Homo sapiens: one gene and its partner. The protein of the gene in region 2 purifies or fractionates together with the protein of the main gene of each other region. This does not show direct contact. Each region holds a gene or a part of one and is shown on either strand. Other genes may lie near its edges.

The links.
Region 1: the proteins of OR6N1 (region 2) and B3GALT5 purify together in Homo sapiens (affinity purification with mass spectrometry; one large-scale study listed by BioGRID and IntAct). This does not show direct contact.

What each region holds. Positions count from the first base shown.
Region 1 is NC_000021.9:39,619,200-39,623,022, forward strand, and holds part of B3GALT5 (beta-1,3-galactosyltransferase 5), read left to right. Parts: intron 1-3,823. UniProt on the Homo sapiens protein: Catalyzes the transfer of Gal to GlcNAc-based acceptors with a preference for the core3 O-linked glycan GlcNAc(beta1,3)GalNAc structure. Can use glycolipid LC3Cer as an efficient acceptor.
Region 2 is NC_000001.11:158,769,387-158,773,910, reverse strand, and holds the start of OR6N1 (olfactory receptor 6N1), read left to right. Parts: upstream 1-1,715; 5' UTR 1,716-1,890; intron 1,891-4,524. UniProt on the Homo sapiens protein: Odorant receptor.

The DNA of each region.
Region 1 (3,823 bases), on a different chromosome or scaffold from region 2:
TGGAAGTCTGAGATCAAAGGTGCCAGCCTGATCAGGTTCTGGTGAGGACCCTCTTCAGGGATGCAGATACATCCTAAAGATTCTGTCTGTGTCCTTACATGCAGAAAGAGATTCCTTTCTTCTTATGAGGCCACCAACCCTATTGAATTAGGATCCCACCCTATGACCTCATTTAACCTTAATTACTTCCTCAAAGCTTTGTCTCCAAATACAGTCACATTGGGGTTAGAGCTTTAACACATGAACTTTGGGTGGACACAATTCCGTCCATAGCATTGGTTTATAAATCACAAGTATCTTATTGATGTAATAAGTTTTTATATATACTAGATCAAGTTAGGTCAAGTTTTCCCATCTTGTTTTGCTTTATAATGTATTTAGCTATTTTTTGCCTTTTAGTCTATGTACGAATCTGAGGTTCAGTTGTCAAGTTCATTTCCAAAATTTGTAGGTTTATTTTTGAGATCTCTGTTCTGTTTTGTCATGATGTATTTTGTTTGTTTCTGCCCAAACACCACAAGTTTTAATTGCTGTGACTTTATAATATGTCTTGGTCTGGGAAGGTAAGTTACCACTTTGTTCTTTTCAGCCATTCTTTTTCTTTTCTTTCTTTCTTTTATTTTTTTTAGGCAGAGTCTTGCTCTGTCACCCAGGCTGGAGTGCAGTGGTGTGATTTCGTCTCACTGCAACCTCTGCCTCCCGGGTTCAAGCAATTCTCGTGCCTCAGCCTCCCAAGTAGCTGGGATTACAGGCGTGTGCCACCATGTGTGGCCAATTTTTATATTTTTTGGTAGAGACGGTATTTTTGGTAGAGACAGTATTCACTATGTTGGCCAGGCTGGTCTCGAACCCCTGGCCTCAAGTGATCCTCCTGCTTCAGCCTCCCAGAGTGCTGGGATTACAGGCGTGAGCCTGCCCGGCCATAATATTCCTAATCTTCAGACCTTGTTTGAATTTTTCCAATTTTCCTGTAATGTCCTTTTTCTGGTCCAGGATCCCAGCCAGAATCCCATATTGCATTGGGTTTTCATGTTGCTTTATTCATGTTCAATCTGTAATAGTTCCTCAGTCTTCTCTTTTGTAAACTTGACATCTCAGAAGAGTTCAGGGTAGTTATTTGTAGAGTATTCCTCAATTTGGAGTTGCCTGATATTTTCTTATATGCAGACTGAAGTTATGCATTTTTGGTAATAATACCACGGAAATTTGATAAATGTGATGCATTTTCTATTGGTTCTGATAGTTTACATGTAGAGTCTCTTGGATGTTTTATGTAGATAATTGTATTAGATATTTTGGTTATTTGTGTCTTTCTAGCACATGGGAGGATTTTGCTTCTCCCACCTCTTGAAGTTACGCAAAGCATGTGGCTTTCCCTGGCCAATGAAAAGGGAGCTAAAGGGATGTGTGCTGAGACATTGAATTGCAGGTGCATGATTTCCCAGCTGTCTTTGCTCTGCTTGTTTAAAGCAAATGTTGATATGAGCATACCATTAGATCAAAATAGCATATGATAATAAACCGACCTTTGTATGCTTGCCTTCAAGAGTAGCCTGAATTAGCAATTGATTTTGCTTATGAGAAGATAAACTTGCAGTGTTAAGACCCCGAGATTTTGGGGTTGTTTGTGGCATAACCTAGCCTATGTGGTCTGACATAATAATCATATTGTCTATAAACAAGAATAGCTTAGTTTCTTCTCTTTTATTTCTTATATACATCTTTTCTGGTCTTATTCCATTGGCTGGGACCTCAAGGGCAATGTTTAATAAAAGCAGTGACAGGTTAGGTACAATGGCTCATGCCTGTAGTCCCAACATTTTGGGAGACCAAAGCAGGAGGATTGCTTGAGGCCAGAAGTTCAAGACTAGCCTGGGCAACATAGTGAGACCCTTTCTCTGAGAAAAAAAAGTGATAATGGACATCCTTGTCTTCACCTTCACCTTAATGGGAATGCTTTTAAGTTTCACTATCAAATATGTCTATTTTAGATATTTGATGGACACCCTTTGTCAAATTAAGAAAGATCTCTTTTTTATTATGAATTGGTGCTGAATTTTATTGATTCTTTTTTGATGTAGCTTTTGAAATAATCATAGACTTTTTCTTCCTTTAATTTACTGGTATAATTTATTAGTGCATTTCTTGTGTTTTATTTAGGACCTTTCCATTTGTATTCAAAAGAGATATTGTTCATAATTTTCTTTTCTTTTACTATCCTTGTCTGAAGTTGTGTATTTTTTCTCTGTCTCTTGGAAATGGCTTGCACAAAAAGGTTTTTTTTTTTTGTTGTTCCTTTAAAATTTGGTAAAGCTCACCTCTAAATCTTTCTGGGTTGTTGCATCGTAGAGTGGAGGCAGTGGACTTCTGATGACAGATTCATTGTTTATTTAGGTTCTATTTCCTTTTGTTTATTCAGGTTCTATTCCTTTTCAATGAACTACATTAATTCATGATTTGCTGGAAAATTATTTCAAAGTTTTGAAATTTATTGGCATAAAATTGTTCATAGTATTTTCTTATGATTTAACATTTTAAAAATTTCTCTGTTGCAGACCTTTTTGACTTTAAATATGATTTATTTCTGTCTCTTTTTTTCTTGTTAAATCTTGGTAAAGTTTTATTTGCTTTATTAGTTTTTCTGAAAGAAACAGTTTTTGAGTATGTAGATAATTTCTTTGGTTGTTTTATTCTGTGTATCAATGACTTGATAGTTATATCCTCGTCTTTTTCTTTTTCTCACCTTTCAAATGTTTATTGCTCTTTTTTCGTAGCTTCTTGAAGTATATGCTTAATGTATTCTACATATTTATTCTTTTGACCTATAACTTTATTTCTAAATAATTTTTAATTGCTGTCCACAGGTTTTGATATGTTGGTCTTTCATTTTTATTTGGTTTAAAATATCTATTATGATTTCCTCTTTAAGCCATAAGTTTTTTTGAGGCCTACTTTTGAAAGTTTCAAAACACACATTTTTCTCCAGTATGTTTTTATTGTTGATTTTTAATCCCCATAAGTGGTATGTGTGCAATTGAAAAGAATGTTTACTTTCTGTTTCTGTATGGTTTAATAAATGAAGTTTATTAATTTTCATTGTCAAATCATTATTACTAATTTTTGTTCTATTTGGTTACACGTTTCTAAAAGAAATGTGTAAAAATAAAATTTATTCTTAGAATGCTATCAATTTTTTGTTATATGTTTTGATGCTGTGTTGTTGAAGCTTACAAGTTCTAAAGATCTATATTATACTATCTATATTATAATAATTTATGGTGAATTGCTATGTAGTGTTGATACTTTTGGCTTGAATTCTTTTTGCCTTACATAGCTGCATTAGGGGTTGGTTTCTTTTTCTTTTCTCCCCCTAACTAATAGCAAGTATCTTTCCTGCCTATCGTTGTAGCTTTACTTTGGGTGTGTCATTTGAACTCGCATATAGGTAGATTTTTTCCAACCTGCTTATTGTGTTTCTAAGCAAGTGAACTTAATCCATTTATAATATACATAATTTCTGAGGCCTTTGGATTTAATTCTTTTATCTCATTATGTGTTTTCTTTTTCATACCTTTTTTCTTTAGTTCTCTTTTCTTCATTTTTTCGTCTCCTGTTGGATTGATACAGTTTTCTACATTCCCATTTTACTTCTTTTGCTGGTTTTCAGACTGTAGACTGTATATATATTTTTAATGATTATATTTAATCTTGAATCATGTATTTTAACGATATATAAACATTTTTGGTATTCCTGGTATTTTCTCTATCATGACAAGGACCTCAGCACAATTTAACTAACAACCTTGTTCCCTTATTTTGTAAC
Region 2 (4,524 bases):
ACAATGCAGGCACTAAAGTGGTAAGGACAGATTTAATCAGTAATATACAAATATACAAATATATATACACACACAAAAACACACACACATACACACACATAGACATAAATTATTTTGGTAGCCTTGAATTTTCTCAGGCAGGCACTTAAAGAGGTGCTAGGATAGACTATGGCCTTGAGTTCTTAGAAACTATGTTAGTGTTTGTTTAAGTCTTTTAATACATGTGGTGGGGGAGGGAAGATGGGGAGGGTGGATGAAATCATTTTTGCTGACAGTCTATAGATTTTGTAAGCCAAGGCTGAGGTTTAGTCAAAAAGAGAACTAGAGTTCAATGAAATTGAGAATCTTTGTTAGAGGAGTCAGTTGTTAAACATTTACCCCAACACATATAGAGACAGAATATCATTTGGAGGGGAGGGTAGCAGAATTGATGGATATATTTTAGGAATAGAGGATATTCTAGTTCACAGAAAAGAAGTAATTGAAATGAAACTGACAGATGTGGAAAATTTAATTTAAAAGGTAGTGGGTATTTAACTCTTAATTGCCTTATAGGGATTTAGAAAACCTGAATAAACCTCTAGTCATTAAGTAAATAAAATTATTACTTAAACTCTACGTATACTAGTCAAAAAACAAAATAATACTTTGACTCAAAAATTAAGTTATTAGTTAAATATCTATTTACCACAAACAAAATATTAAATACTGGCAACTCAGTTTGAAAAAAAAAAATCTTCCAGAAATAAATTAGGAGATAGAAAAATATAAACTTTGATGAAGAATATTGAAAGTGTGGGTGGGATGGAGAAAGTGACAAAAATTATTTAATTCTTCTCATAGTTCATATTATAGTTTGTAAGTACTTTTTTTTACATTATCACATTTGATTATTAATTTTATCTGAGGAAAGTAAATCTTCCTTATACTTTTTAAATTTTTTATCTGACAAATAATTATATATGTGATGTTTTGATACATGTATGCAGAGTAGAATGATCAAATTAGGCTAATTAACATATTTATCACCTCACATATAGTACTTATCATTTTTATTTTGTGGCAAGAGTATTCAAAATCCACCCTTCTGGCAATATTGCCAACCATGGCTCAGTGAGGTGCCTAATGTCTCATAAGTATTTGGAAGAATGGCTGGGATTGTATCCAAGATTCTGAAGCAGCACTCTTTACGGAGCAGATAACACTAGAGTAGAGAGGAGACTGCAGTGTGTAAGACAACATATAACGGCTATAAATATGAGCAACAGACAAGATTAGGAGTCGGTCTTGATGATATTTATGTCCCCAGTGTCTCCCTGTCCTCACCCTTTCAGGGTCAAAGAAGGTCAGTCAAATTTTATAAAGATCCTATCATAATTGAAAGTTGTATGCTTACTCCCAAGTCATGCAGTACAGGAACCCATTTGAACCTAGTTTTCACACCAGTTATTGTTATTTACTAAAGGAAGTAATTGCCTTGAGACATGTTCTATCTCAACTTGGACTGGTAGTTATTGTTGTAGTAACTAATAGGTAATGAAGGACTACTGGCTAATGAACTTGCTGTATGTCAGTTCCCTTCCTGAGAGAGCACTTTAGTGACCCCAGGAGGTCTGCTCAGAAGGCCCATGGGCTTCTGCCTCTATGAGGTCCCTATCAAGAATCCAGGTTTTATGGGAGAAGAATTTGTTTTATGGTTTAACTTATTCCCACAGGTTCCATCAAAGTGATAAACTTCAACCCCTCCAGGCCCCGGGAATGGCTGGGTATAATACTGCAAATGAGACATAGGAAGTATACAGGAAGTTCTCTTCAAACTTCGGACTCCGAGCAGTGGCTGGGCTTCCAGAGTCAAGCTCTAGCAGAGCACTCCCCACCAACAATCTCTAGGTAAGACTTTATCAAGCAGGCATTTTCATCTTCACATTCCTTCTTAGTCTGATCACTAAGAGACCTAGAGGATTCAGAAATATGGAGAGGTTTTTGAATAATCAGGGTCCATAAAACACATAATTGAAACACAGAAACTATTTTTAAAAACAGATATTCTGCTTTTCAAATGCTATAGTGAAGAGTCTGGCTTCAAAATTAGTAAATTGGCTATATTTTTAACTAACTGTGTAAACTGGAACAAGTCTTCTCCCCTTTCTGGATCCCAGTTTTTGTTGTTTGTTTGTTTGTTTCGTTTTTTAAATGAAGACGTTGAGTGTGATAATCTCTAAAATTGCATCTCCCTTCTTACCCCCAGATCTTTGGCCCTATGCCTAAACAATTATGAACTATGAATAATGCAGCTGTGGTATCTGAAGAAAAGAATGCAAGGCATATATTCTAAAAGCTTTCTAGAATTAGGGGAATAAACTATGATTTCAATGGACCTAAGTAAGATAAATGTAAATTTGTATATGTGGTAGGTTTTATGAGAGCCCTGATTCCAATATCAGGAATAGGAGTAGATGAGTAACTGATGAGCTAAAGAGCTGCACAAGTCATCTCAATTGCCCTCTTTTTCATTACCCACCATAACTCGGATATATCAGGCATTGTGCTAAGTACTCTAGGAGGTAGGACATGGTATGAAGTTTCCTCATTAATTTCAAAAAGCTCACAGAGAGTTGCCTTGGAGTGATAAGACATATGCCTGGAAAATAATTGCAGTGCATTACAGGATATAATTGGAGGGACAGTGAGAAAGTACTACTGAGAATTTAGAAGTGTGAAAGAACAGTATTTAACTTAGATGGTCAGGGAAAAAAATGACAGACTTGAGCTAGAAAATGATTCAAGTGTCTTCAGATTGACAAAAGATAAAGCATATTTTTAGTGAGGGTACACTGCAAACAAAGGAGTCTGGGCTAAATACAGAAACCCACTTGGCAAACATTGAAATTGCTATAATGGTGATGAAAAGAATGTTTGAACACATGACTCTGGACCAGAGCAATAGGGTTGTTTCACAGAGCAAAACAAAGAATAATGGTGAAAGCCAGGTTTCTGGTCATTGGAAAGGACAGTTGTAAACTAAAACATTTCAAAAATGGAGAGAACTGTCTTATGGGTCAGGAAGCTTCCAGTGCTGTAAATCCAGGCAGAGGGTTGATGCCCATTTGTGGCGATATGGATTCCTTTATGAGTGAGAAGATATGAGTTTTTGCTGGGCTGAATCAAAATTAGAAACATAAGTACAAATATGAAGTTTGATACACATGATTTATCCTTCTATTTTAGCCTTCCTTTTTGTGATATTTAAAGGTTTTTTCTTTTTATGAGCTGTTGGAAATATATAATACATTTCAGATATTCCAACAATCCAGTGAAATCCAAAATTATGGGGGCCACTGGAAAGTGATAGTTCCTAAAGCTTCTCTCAACACTAAATTAAGGTTTATCAGTACTAGCAGTTACAATCATAATTAGAAATAATAAAATAAATTTTTTAAAAAGGGAAAATCATCAGTATTTTTTGCCATCTTAAAGGGGGTGTGAAAAAGAGAAGGAAATGGTCCAAACCTCTGAGAACTGTGAACTTGGAAGATGAGGGAGTTGGGGGTGCTAGTTTTCCGTGGAAAATAATAATACTTGATCGGATCCTGATGACTTTGATTGCTTAGGCAGAGTATGGAGGGAGTGAACAACAGCAGGTCATTAATGAGTGATGATACAATGTATAGTGTGATAATAAGTCTTTGGAGTTATGTGGAAACTCTACCTTCTGAGAAAGGAGACGACAAAATACTGGCTTCTCATATTCAATCTTCTGACCAGCCATCCATGTAGATCTGAAAATTTAGTTAAGGGCTCACAGTCTAGACAACTCATCTGTGAGTGGGACTGGAGGCCAGAAAAGGAAAGAGGCAGCTCTAGAATAGAACCTTTTATTTATATTTAGAAGGGAAGGAATATAGAACATCTAGAAAACAAGGGTCTGAGAAGAAGTAGAAATTTAGGGATAATCCTTTATAGAAGGCAGGTATGCATTCAAGACTTGAAGAAAACAGAAGGCAGAATTGGGCAGTGGATAGACATGGATATGCGGTGAGAAAAACTAAGACAAAGAAATTTTGGATAATAAAGTAATTATTCTGAAGCAAAATCACCCATATAAAAGTTTGGCCCGGAAGTAGTTCTCTGGAATCTAAGTAGAGAAACATCCTATATTAAGTCTTGGATTGAGAAAGGCTTTTGTATATGGGATGGACATGCTCCCTAGGTTTAGAAAAATGCCAAGAAAAATCAGAGTAAACAAAGTTAGTTTGGATGAATTTCAGGATCCTGGAGAGGGAAGAAGTGATAAGAAGACCGGAGGGCAGAAGGAGAAGACTCGGTGTCTTTCATAACTCTCTGCCTTTGCACAGGCAGTTCCATTTGCTTCAAATACTTTTTATTTCATTTTTCCATCTAAAAAATTCTGACAGTTTCTTCACTTCAAATAAAAATTATATCTTCTGGCAAAGCATGGTGACTTATGCCTGTAATCCCAGCACTTTTAGAGGCCAAAGCAGGTGGATCACTTGAGCCCAGGAG